Regions from separate parts of the Homo sapiens genome. Here region 1 is linked to region 2. The links come from fine-mapping of genetic effects on gene expression. A gene starts in region 2. The other region holds a variant in brackets. All regions are shown on one strand. Distances are between the middles of the regions.

The links. PIP is the estimated chance that this variant, and not a neighbour inherited with it, causes the effect. A credible set is the group of variants that fine-mapping cannot tell apart.
Region 1: its variant is the best candidate, but not a certain one, in a credible set for the expression of TNS4 in monocytes (CEDAR, PIP 0.73).

Annotation. Positions count from the first base shown.
Region 1 is chr17:41,188,585-41,193,962 of GRCh38, forward strand. It overlaps KRTAP9-1 (keratin associated protein 9-1), which reads left to right and starts at 1,303. Exons shown (of 1, transcript NM_001190460.1): 1 at 1,303-2,055. The coding sequence starts at 1,303. The coding sequence ends at 2,055. The variant G/A (reference allele first, on the strand shown) is at 3,209.
Region 2 is chr17:40,498,898-40,504,275 of GRCh38, forward strand. TNS4 (tensin 4) reads right to left here and starts at 2,726. Exons shown (of 13, transcript NM_032865.6): 1 at 2,637-2,726. RefSeq lists an enhancer at 268-1,139.

The DNA.
Region 1 (5,378 bases), 690 kb after region 2:
CCCGTTTGTTCCTTCATTTAAAACACACGGCCGGGCGCGGTGGCTCACGCCTGTAATCCCAGCACTTTGGGAGGCCGAGACGGGCGGATCACGAGGTCAGGAGATCGAGACCATCCTGGCTAACACGGTGAAACCCCGTCTCTACTAAAAATACAAAAATTAGCCGGGCATGGTGGCGCGCGCCTGTAGTCCCAGCTACACGGGAGGCTGAGGCAGGAGAATGGCGTGAACCCGGGAGGCGGAGCTTGCAGTGAGTCGAGATCGCGCCACTGCACTCCAGCCTGGGCGACAGAGCGAAACTCCGTCTCAAAAAAAAAAAAAAAAACACACACAACGGTGTTTGTATTTTCAAACTGCAATTCAAAGCAAAATATTTTAGTTGTCTGACTAACTGCTTTTAAACTTTTCTTTGCACCACTAAGCGTAAACATCATGTACCCAGGGATGTTTGTACTTAGGGCCATCAACAGATGTGGAGCTCAGCATGGAAAAGATTACGACAATTACAATTGAGCCCAGTCCCCTGTTTCAGGAATTGAGATACCCAAGTGGAGTTGCTATTACTATTAGAATTACTGTCATTGAATCTGTGTTTGTGTGACACAGATGAAAAGTTTGATAAAAAATACATTTTAACGGAAAATATTTTAAAATATGGTTTACATTTGTCACCTTGAGTTAATCACCATGTTCTAGTGCTGGAGGGGAAAATGTAGGTGGTGACAATAGTTCTGGCCTCTTCAAGTTAGTTTCAGTTGTCAGGGGATCAGTCAATGTACTCTGTCTTAAAGAATGATAATTCAGGCGAGGCACAGTGGCTCATGCCCGTAATCCCATCACTCTGGGAGGCTGAGGTAGGAGGATCGCTTAAGTCCAGAAGTTCAAGGCCACAATGAGCTATGATCGCGCCACTGCACACTAGCCTGAGTGACAGGTGAAACCTTGTCTCTAAGATAATAATAGCAGTAAAATAATAAATAAAAATATATACTTTATAGTTAAATGATGCTATTGATGTTGATCACCTCTCTCACTTCTGGATATAAGTTTTTATGGGTTATCTATTGTTAAGTAGAACAATCATTTATTTTCAGAAGATTCATAACACTTAAGGAACACTTCGTCCCTGGGCAATTCCCTATAGGTTATGAAAAATAATGTCATAAATAATAACCAGGAAAATTCTGCTCATTGGTTCCAGATTTGGGAACCAGTGTATAAAAGGTCCAGATACTAGAAGGGGGTCATCAGATTCTTGGAAACTCACCTCTGAACAGGAGCCCACCCTTCACCCCTGACACCATGACCCACTGCTGTTCCCCTTGCTGTCAGCCTACATGCTGCAGGACCACCTGCTGCAGGACAACCTGCTGGAAGCCCACCACTGTGACCACCTGCAGCAGCACACCCTGTTGCCAGCCCTCCTGCTGTGTGCCCAGCTGCTGCCAGCCTTGCTGCCACCCAACTTGCTGTCAAAACACCTGCTGCAGGACCACCTGCTGCCAGCCCACTTGTGTGGCCAGCTGCTGCCAGCCTTCCTGCTGCAGCACACCCTGCTGCCAGCCCACCTGCTGTGGGTCCAGCTGCTGTGGCCAAACCAGCTGTGGGTCCAGCTGCTGTCAGCCTATTTGTGGGTCCAGTTGCTGTCAGCCTTGCTGTCACCCGACTTGCTATCAAACTATCTGCTTCAGGACCACCTGCTGCCAGCCTACCTGCTGCCAGCCCACCTGCTGCAGGAACACCTCTTGCCAGCCCACCTGCTGTGGGTCCAGCTGCTGCCAGCCTTGCTGCCACCCAACATGCTGTCAAACCATTTGTAGATCCACCTGCTGCCAACCATCCTGTGTGACCAGATGCTGCAGCACACCCTGTTGCCAGCCAACCTGTGGTGGGTCCAGCTGCTGTAGCCAAACCTGCAATGAGTCCAGCTATTGTCTGCCTTGCTGCCGTCCCACCTGCTGCCAGACCACCTGCTACAGGACCACCTGTTGCCGCCCCAGCTGTTGCTGCAGTCCTTGCTGTGTCTCCAGCTGCTGCCAGCCTTCCTGCTGCTAATCCACTTGCTGCAGACCCACCACCCACCAGAGACATATTTCCTGAAACATTTTGTCAAAGTTCCTATTCCACCAAGAAACATTCGCTAAGCTTTTCTGAGAAACAACATTCTGACACTGAACTTTGTGATCATCTTCTTCCTACCATGCTTGGGATTCTGCTGAAGGTTTGCAGTCTACCTCACTTTCATTCTTCTTCATTCCCTCTGTGTTAATGTACCAGATGGTGGTCAGTCAACTCCACCTAATTGACATGGATACATGGACTCAGCCACAGAAAGTGGTCATCAGCTTTTGCCCCTATGGAACTTAAAAAAAAATTCTTAAGACTGCATATCTAACTCTCTATAATGATCAATACTGATCATCTTTTTAGATATATACATTTTATTTAGTAGCCTCTGCCAGATTACTAAACTCTTTCATGATCACTTTTAATTGTCTCCCTACCTGGTCTTTCCTAATAAAATTTATATTATCCTGCATCCTATGGTATGATTTTTGTTCCATTTGTTTGTTTGTTTGCAGCAGTTGCTTTGTGAAGCCTTACTTTTGAGTTGTGGTTTATATTTATTATCTTGTTCAAGTCTCACAATGACCTACAAGTTGGACAGAGCAAACATTTTAGTGATGAGAAAATGATTTGCCATACAACTAGCAATTGACAAGGGAAGGTTCAATGACCAGGTACTTTGAATCCAGGTTAAGGACACTTTTTTAAAAACATTTTTCTCCGGGTAGATGCAACAGTGGTGATTGAGTGCAGGGAAGATGTACATTTTAAGTCACATCTCAAGCAAACACTTTTCTATCTACAAAGCACTTCCCAAATACTCTCCCCACCTCTATGACCACTAGAGACCATCTTTAAGAGTTCTAGGAATGCTTTTACACTCTTGGTGGGAGTGTGAATTAGTTCAACCATTGTGGACAACAGTGTGGCTATTCCTCAAGGATCTAGAACCAGAAATGCCATTTGACCAAGCAATCCCATTACTGGGTATATACCCAAAGGATTATAAATCATTCTACTATAAAGACACCTGCACATGTATGTTTATTGCAGCATTATTTACAATAGCAAAGACTTGGAACCAACCTAAATGTCTGTCAGTGATAGACTGGATAAAGAAAATGTGTCACATATACACCAT[G/A]GAATACTATGCAGCCATAAAAAGATTGAGATTATGTCCTTTGCAGAGACATGGATGAAGCTGGAAGCCATCATTTCAGCAAACTAACATAGAAACAGAAAAACAAAACACTGCATGTTCTCGCTTATAAGTGGGAGTTGAACTGTGAGAATACATGGACACAGGAAGGGGACCATCACACACCAGGGCCTGTCGGGGGATGGGGGGCAAGGGGAGGGAGAGCATTGAGACAAATACCTAATGCATGCGGGGCTTAAAACCTAGATGACAGGTTGTTAGGTGCAGCAAACCACCATGGTACATGTATACCTATGTAACAAACCTGCACATTCTGCACGTGTAACCCAGAACTTAGAGTAAAATAAAAAATAAAAATAAATAAAACTTTTTAAAAAGTGTTCTAGTCCATGAAAAGAGCTTTGTGTCTCTGGATTCTGATCCACCACTGAAGAATCTGTCACCAACAACTAGTGTGACATGGGTTTTCCCGGCCCTACTCTCACCACGAAGAACCTCCTCTTTGCTGTCATGATTAAGCATCTGGGTATCATTTCATTTATTTTAACAGGAATTAGGATTAAGAATCACTTTTGCAAAGCGCACAAGATTGGACCATGCTTCCTGGGTTCCCAAATTTTGAGGCAATTTTGTTTCCTAACATGAACTTTGTTAAGGGAAGATAAATTTGTACAGAATCCTAAGAATTAAGGTAACCATGCAATGGACTTATGCCCTTTGATCTAATCATAATCTCTGGGCCATAAAAGAAAACAAAATAACTCCCTGTGTTTTATGAGATAAAGAAGATAAAGTCAATTATGCTAAAGGAAGTCAAAATCAGAATTTTCAGAAAAAAAGGGAGAAATGTTAGAAACATGAAAATGGGAACAAATGATGCACTATTTAAAGCCAAGATGGGCATTAAGTTGGTTCCTAAATGGAGGAAACTGGATCTTCTGATGAGAAACTGAATAAGGAAAGGAATAGCCAGAGGACGCAGCAGTACGAAGGCTAATTCAGCTTTGGGAGGACACTAAGAGGTTTTGACTGTGGCCACCTTCTTTTTAATTATTATTATTATTTTTTAATTTTAATTTATATATTTTTATATTTTTTTATTATACTGTAAGTTCTAGGGTACATGTGCACATCGTGCAGGTTTGTTACATATGTATACATGTGCCATGTTGGTTTGCTGCACCGATTAACTCATCATTTACATTAGGTATATCTCCTAATGCTATCTCTACCCGCTCCCCCCACCCCACAACTGTGGCCACCTTCTTAAGAGACCTGAAGGTGCTTTGGGTGAGCGAACTACTAGATGTGACAGAGACATGTCATCTTCCTAGGGGATGTATCTGGAATTCTCTGCCGGGTTATTAACTTTCCAACAGGGGGAATGAATGGGTAATTTGCTGACATTTACTGAGAGCCTGCTATACACTAGGTATTGAGGTAGTTGCTCCATGCGCCCTCTGTCTCATTCCCAGGCAATCCCAAAGGTAAGTATTAGTGGCCCCATGTTCAAGCTGAGGAAGTCAGTGTTGAAGAAGTTAAAGCAACTCATATGTGTTGCATAAATGATACAACATTTTTCTGCTTTCCAAAACAAAGCTGTTTGGGGGAAGTACTGGTGAAATGAGAGATATAGATCAATGGAAAATATTGAGAGACAAGAAAGAGATTCACATATATATTATCAATTGATTTTTTGACAAGATGCCAAGTGGATATACAGATAATCTGTGGTCTTTTGAATAAACAGTGCTGGAACAATTAAACATCCATGAGCAAAAAGAAAAAAAAATAGAACTTTGATTTATACATTACATATATACAAAAATAAGCTCAAAATGGATCACAGGCCAAAGTGTAAAACCTAAAACTACAAAACTTTTAGAAGGAAACATAGAAAAAAGTTTTAGGACTGTAGATTAGGTGAAGATTTCTTAGATGAATACATAACTCCCTCAAAAAGTGGGCAAAGGATATGAACAGACACTTCTCAAAAAAAGACATTTATGCAGCCAATAAACATATGAAAAACAGCTCAACATCACTGATCATTAGATAATGCAAATCAAAACCACAATGAGATACCATCTCATGTCACTCTGAATGGCGATCATTAGAAAGTTAAGAAACAATAGATGCTGGTGAGGTATGG
Region 2 (5,378 bases):
AGACTCGGAGAGGTCAAGAAACACGCTTCACATCCAGAAAGATGGTGGAGCTGGGATTCAAACCCAGGTGTGGGATTTTGGAATCTTAATTCCTTATGCTAAGGGAGGAGACCACCCCTCATATTGTCTTATGCCCAATTTCTGCCTCCAAAGAAAGAAAAAGTAAAAACTAAAAGGCAGAAATGAAATCCACAAGCAGACAGCCCAGCGCCACACCCTGGGCCTGGTAGTTAAAGATCGACCCCTGACCTAATCGGTTATGTTATCTATAGATTACAGACATTGTATAGAAATGCACTGTGAAAATCCCTTTCCTGTTTTGTTCCCACGTAATTACCGGTGCGTGCAGCCCCCAGTCACGTACCCCCTGCTTGCTCAATTGATCACGACCCTCTCACACGCACCCCCTTAGAGTTGTGAGCCCTTAAAAGGGACAGGAAATGCTCACTCGGGGAGCTCGGCTCTTGAGACAGGAGTCTTGCTGATGCCCCCGGCCGAATAAACCCCTTCCTTCTTTAACTTGGTGTCTGAGGAGTTTTGTCTGCGGCTCGTCCTGCTACAATGCCACATGGAATTCAAGTGCAGAGGGACACCTGGGATCTAGAGAGGGGGCATGATTGGCTGAAGGTCGCACAGGTTTCATGAGAAAAGCCAGGGCCCCTTCCCCTCTCCTGCCTCCCCCAACGCCCGTGGCTCCGGTAGGTCTGATGCCAGACTTTTCCTTGGCCAGGTCCTGCAGGGGGCGGGGCATCCCGGGCACGGGAAGCTTTCTATAAATGGAAGTGGAAGGGAGCCGGCCTCTGCGCTCCCGCCCTCCCGGGACAGCTGAGGACACAGAGCCGGAACCACGGCTTTTTCCACACAGGCTCCAAGTGGACTGGGTTTGTTGGGACAGGATCTGGGCGCTCCCTGCAGGGTTTTCTGGCTGTGTCCTGCAGAGGAGGCTGGGGCTGCTGACTTTGCAGAGCTCAAGGAGGGCTGGGTGTCCCCTCGCAACCAGGACCCAGTATACCTGCTTACTAATTTGGACACAGCTTTTGTGCCACGCTGGGCAAGCGTCCTTTCCTCTCTGGGCAGACCTCAGTTGTCCCATCTGTGTGATGGGGATGTGATAATAACAGACACTGAACACCTTGCATTTTCTCAACAGCTCTCTGAGGAGGGTGCTATTGCTGCAGGGCTGGAGAGGTTGAGGAATTTGCCCAAGGTCATACAACCCCAACTGTGAATTGGGGTTTAAACCCAGGTGGTCTTGCTCCACGGTCCCACACTTTTAGCCTCTGCTGCTGCTTCACATATTTAAGAACCCTGTCCACCGCTGCCCCTTCTGGGATTCTGGAACCAAGAGGGACAGACCTGGAGCTGAGCAAAGGGCAGGCAGCCCCTACGCTCCTCTTCAGCCTCCCCTCACTTTTAAGGCTCTGCGTCGCCCTTGGATGTACCAAGGCAGGGCTCCATCTTACTCCTGTATTCCTGAATGCTGCCCCCTTCGCGGCCCCGCACACTCCTCTAACTTGCTCTTTCTTGCTGTAAGTGGTGGGGAGAGTCCCTGGGCCCGGGGCTCTGTGTGGTTGGGAGGCACGGGGCGGGGGCAAGGAGGGCTCCAGCCACCTCTGCTCTATTTGTAGGTGCCCCCTACCCGCTCCCACTTCTGATTCTGACTCAGATCTCTTTCTTTGTTCCCAAGGACTCTGGGGAGTCCTGGTGCCTTGGCAAATCCCCTCTTCCGTGTCATTGCCAACCTCTTCTCCTGACTTACTCTCTCCCAATGAGCCCAGGTCAGTGAAGGGAGAGGGTGGGGCAAGGGTAAAGCCTGAGTCTCCCCCAAAGCACTTTGCCTCATTAGCCCAATCTCCACTGCACCCCCTATTTTTGAAAACTGGCTCCCGATCTTCCCATCCCTCCCACCCAGACCCGGTGACGCAGGACGTGGACCTCAGGCAGGGACCCATAGGACCAGTGAAGGCCAGCCGCCCCATCTCCCAGTCCTGTCTACCTCTGAAGTGCCCAGAGGGCTCCCAGAGCGCTGGGAGGCGAGAGGCCTGGGTTCTGTGTCCAGTCCCTTTCCATGACCTCAGGCAAGCCTCTTCTCTGTGGCCCTCAGCTCTCTCATCTATTTGCCGAGGGGCACAGGTTTAGTTCCCTTGAACTGCTGAACTCCGCGGTCTGTGATCCTGAGACCATCTCTGTCTCATCCACATCCTCCACCCCATTTCTCCCCACCTTCACTCTGAGCCCTGAGAAATGGAGAAGCTGAAGACAAAAGGTTAAATGAGGCTGGGCTCACGCCTGTAATTCCAGCACTTTGGGAGGCTAAGGTGGGAGGATCACCTGAGGTCAGGAGTTTGAGACCAGCCTGGCCAACATGGTGAAACCGCGTCTCTACTAAACATAAGAAAATTAGCCGGGCATGGTGGCAAACATCTGTAATCCCTGTTACTTGGGAGGCTGAGGCAGGAGAATCGCTTGAACCCTGGAGGCAGACGTTGGCAGTGAGCCGAGATCGCGCCACTGCACTCCAGCTTGGGTGACAGAGCAAGACTCCATCTCAAAAAAAAAAAAAAAAATGTTTAAATGAATCAGGGCCAGCAAAGGTGCTCCGTGTTCCTCTCTTCTTAAAGAATAAAGGCACCTACCTGGTGTCCACAGGTGGGCAGACTGTTGCCTTCACTACTGGCTCCTGGGACCAAGACGACTCAGAGTCCAGGTGAAGAGTCAGGAGAGGCGCCAGTTCACCTCCAGACCTGCCTTAAAAGCAGCTTGCCCGCCTTCTCTCCTCCCCTCCGGGCGGGCCCTGCACGTGGCCCTGACAGCAGTAGGCCCCACCCCTGCTGGATCCAGTGAGCTCAGGTGGGGCTGGCACAGGCAGCAGGAAGGGAAGCACTGGGTGGTGGGTTTTGGGTCTGGGTGTGTGTGAGGGGCTCCCAAGTTCCTGCTTGGGCTTCTCGTGGCACCACATGGCCAGGGAGTCCTTGCTTGGACAGGGCATAGCTAGAATCAAGGTGTGCAGTGGGCACTCCTCAGGTGCTGGCTGGGGCAGAGGCCATGGGTTGGCAGAGCTGGCAGAGAGTGAGGGCCTTGACAAAGCAGGATGCCAGTGGGCAGGAGACCCTCTGCAGTCCCCCTTTGTGCTGGGTCACACTGGGACAGGCACAGGGTAAGGGCCCACTGGAAGTAAGGCTAGGCACGAGCTTGTCTTTTCTTCTTTCTCTCCTTTTACAGTAATGACTCTAGCTTGGGATGGGGCCTCTAACTCAAGGAAAGGAGGCTGAAGTGTCTGGAGGGCTTTGAGAAGGGGCTTATAGCTGTTCCTTCACTCATGGGCTATCTCTGTCCCTCGTCTGGTCTGTGCCCCAGGGTGGAAGTTCCCTGAGGGGAGGACATTGGAGGGTGAGATCAGGAAGCCCAGAAGTCTGGTCTGGTAGCTCCTTCTCCATGGTTCCAACTCTCTCCCTGTTCTAGAGGGGCAGGGGTCCTAGAATGTTGTAAGGAGGTGTTCAGACATGGTGAGGGGAGGGTGCTGATGGCAGAGCCTGGTCTGGGAGCGGTCTGAAGTGAGGGAGCTGGCGAAGTCTCCAGCCCAGGGACTCATGGTGATCCCAGTAGGCTAATCTCAGGGGTGGGTTGCCCCATGCCCCCATTATGCCCAGTGGAAGGGCTTCTGGCCTTACAGTTTTTGATGCCCTGGGGTTTCACTGAGGCATGGTGAACTAGTGCATGGGAGGCCGGTGAGCAAAGCTATGGAAAGTTATATAAGGTGCCCCTTCCTGATGGTGACATAAAAGGTGTCCCTAGGTGTCCATGCAGCCTTGTTGGCACATGGCTTGATGAGCAATTATGTCTTTGGATGAAAAATGTGGTGCTCCTGCCCTGGAGTGGATGTCACTGCACATGGCGGCTTCCCCCATGAGGCTGTGGCTCATGATTGTGGGAGAGTGGGAGGGGCGACTCGTGAGTTTCTTGAGTGGAAGGGGCAGGTTACAGTAGGGCGAAGTGTTGGGCAGAGACTGTGGCAACTCCGGGGTAACCCTGGCCATCTCCCCTGGGGCTGGTATGGATAGCCTCTGCAGTGGTTCTTCAGGGCCAGGGGGTCCTCCAGCCTTACAGACCCATACCTGGGGGTTATGGTCTTTCTTGGCAGATTGGCTCTTTTGTTTCACACCCAGCTGCTTCCTTTAGCTTAAGATGGTCTCAGAACAGTGATTTCAGCCCCAGCTGCCTCACAAACCCTGCCCAACACCACATCACTGCCCTTTGCCGTGATCATCAAGGGATGGATGGAGTGGCATTTCTTTATACATCTATAGATATGACATTTTTTCTTTAGCCTATGGATGTGATAGATTACATTAATTTACTTTTGAATTTTGAACCCTCCTTGCATACCTGGGATGAACCCCCTGGTCATGGTATATAATTCTTTTTTTTTTTGTGATGGGGTCTTGCTATGTTGCCCAGGCTGGTCTCAACCTCCCGGACTCAAGTGATCTTCCCACTTCAGACTTTGGAGTAGCTGGGATTACAGACATGTACCACTATGCCTGGGTCTGTATAATTCTTCTAATACATTGTTGGGTTCAATTTGCTAACATTTTGTGGAGGATTTTTGCATCTATGTTCATGAGTGATATTGGTGTCTAGTTTTCTTTTGTATCTCTGGTTTCAGCAATGCTGGCCTCATAAAATGAGTTGGGAAGTGTTCCTTCTGCTTCTATCTTCTGAAAGAGGTTGTAGAGAAGTGGTCCTATTTCTTCCTCAAATGTTTGGTAGATTTCACCAGTAAAACTGTCTGGTCCTGGTGCTTTCTGTTTTGGAAGGTTATTAATTATTAATTCAATTCTTTGCTAGATATAAGCCTATTCACAGCATTTCTTTTCAACCTCAAAATACACTATTTCCCTAGTTGACGGGGGCACCTTGTCCTACATCTACTCTTCTGAAAGAAGGGATTCCAAGTAGATTAAAAAAAAAAAGTCCAGCCTATATTTTGATGTATTCTGCATGTCTCTCACTAAGGGAGAGGGAAAATCAATTAAAGAAACCAAGAAATGGCCGGGTGCAGTGGCTCACGCCTGTAATCCCAGCACTTTGGGAGGCCGAGGTGGGTGGATCACGAGGTCAGGAGATCGAGATCATCCTGGCTAACACAGTGAAACCCCGTCTCTATTAAAATACAAAAAATGAGCCGGGCGTGGTGGCGGGTGCCTGCAGTCCCAGCTACTCGGGAGGCTGAGGCAGGAGAATGGCGTGAACCCAGGAGGCAGAGCTTGCAGTGAGCCGAGATCGCACCGCTGCACTCCAGCCTGGGTGACAGAGCAAGACTCCATCTCAAAAAAAAAAGAAACTAAGAAATGTAATTTCTGACTGAGTTTTTTTCT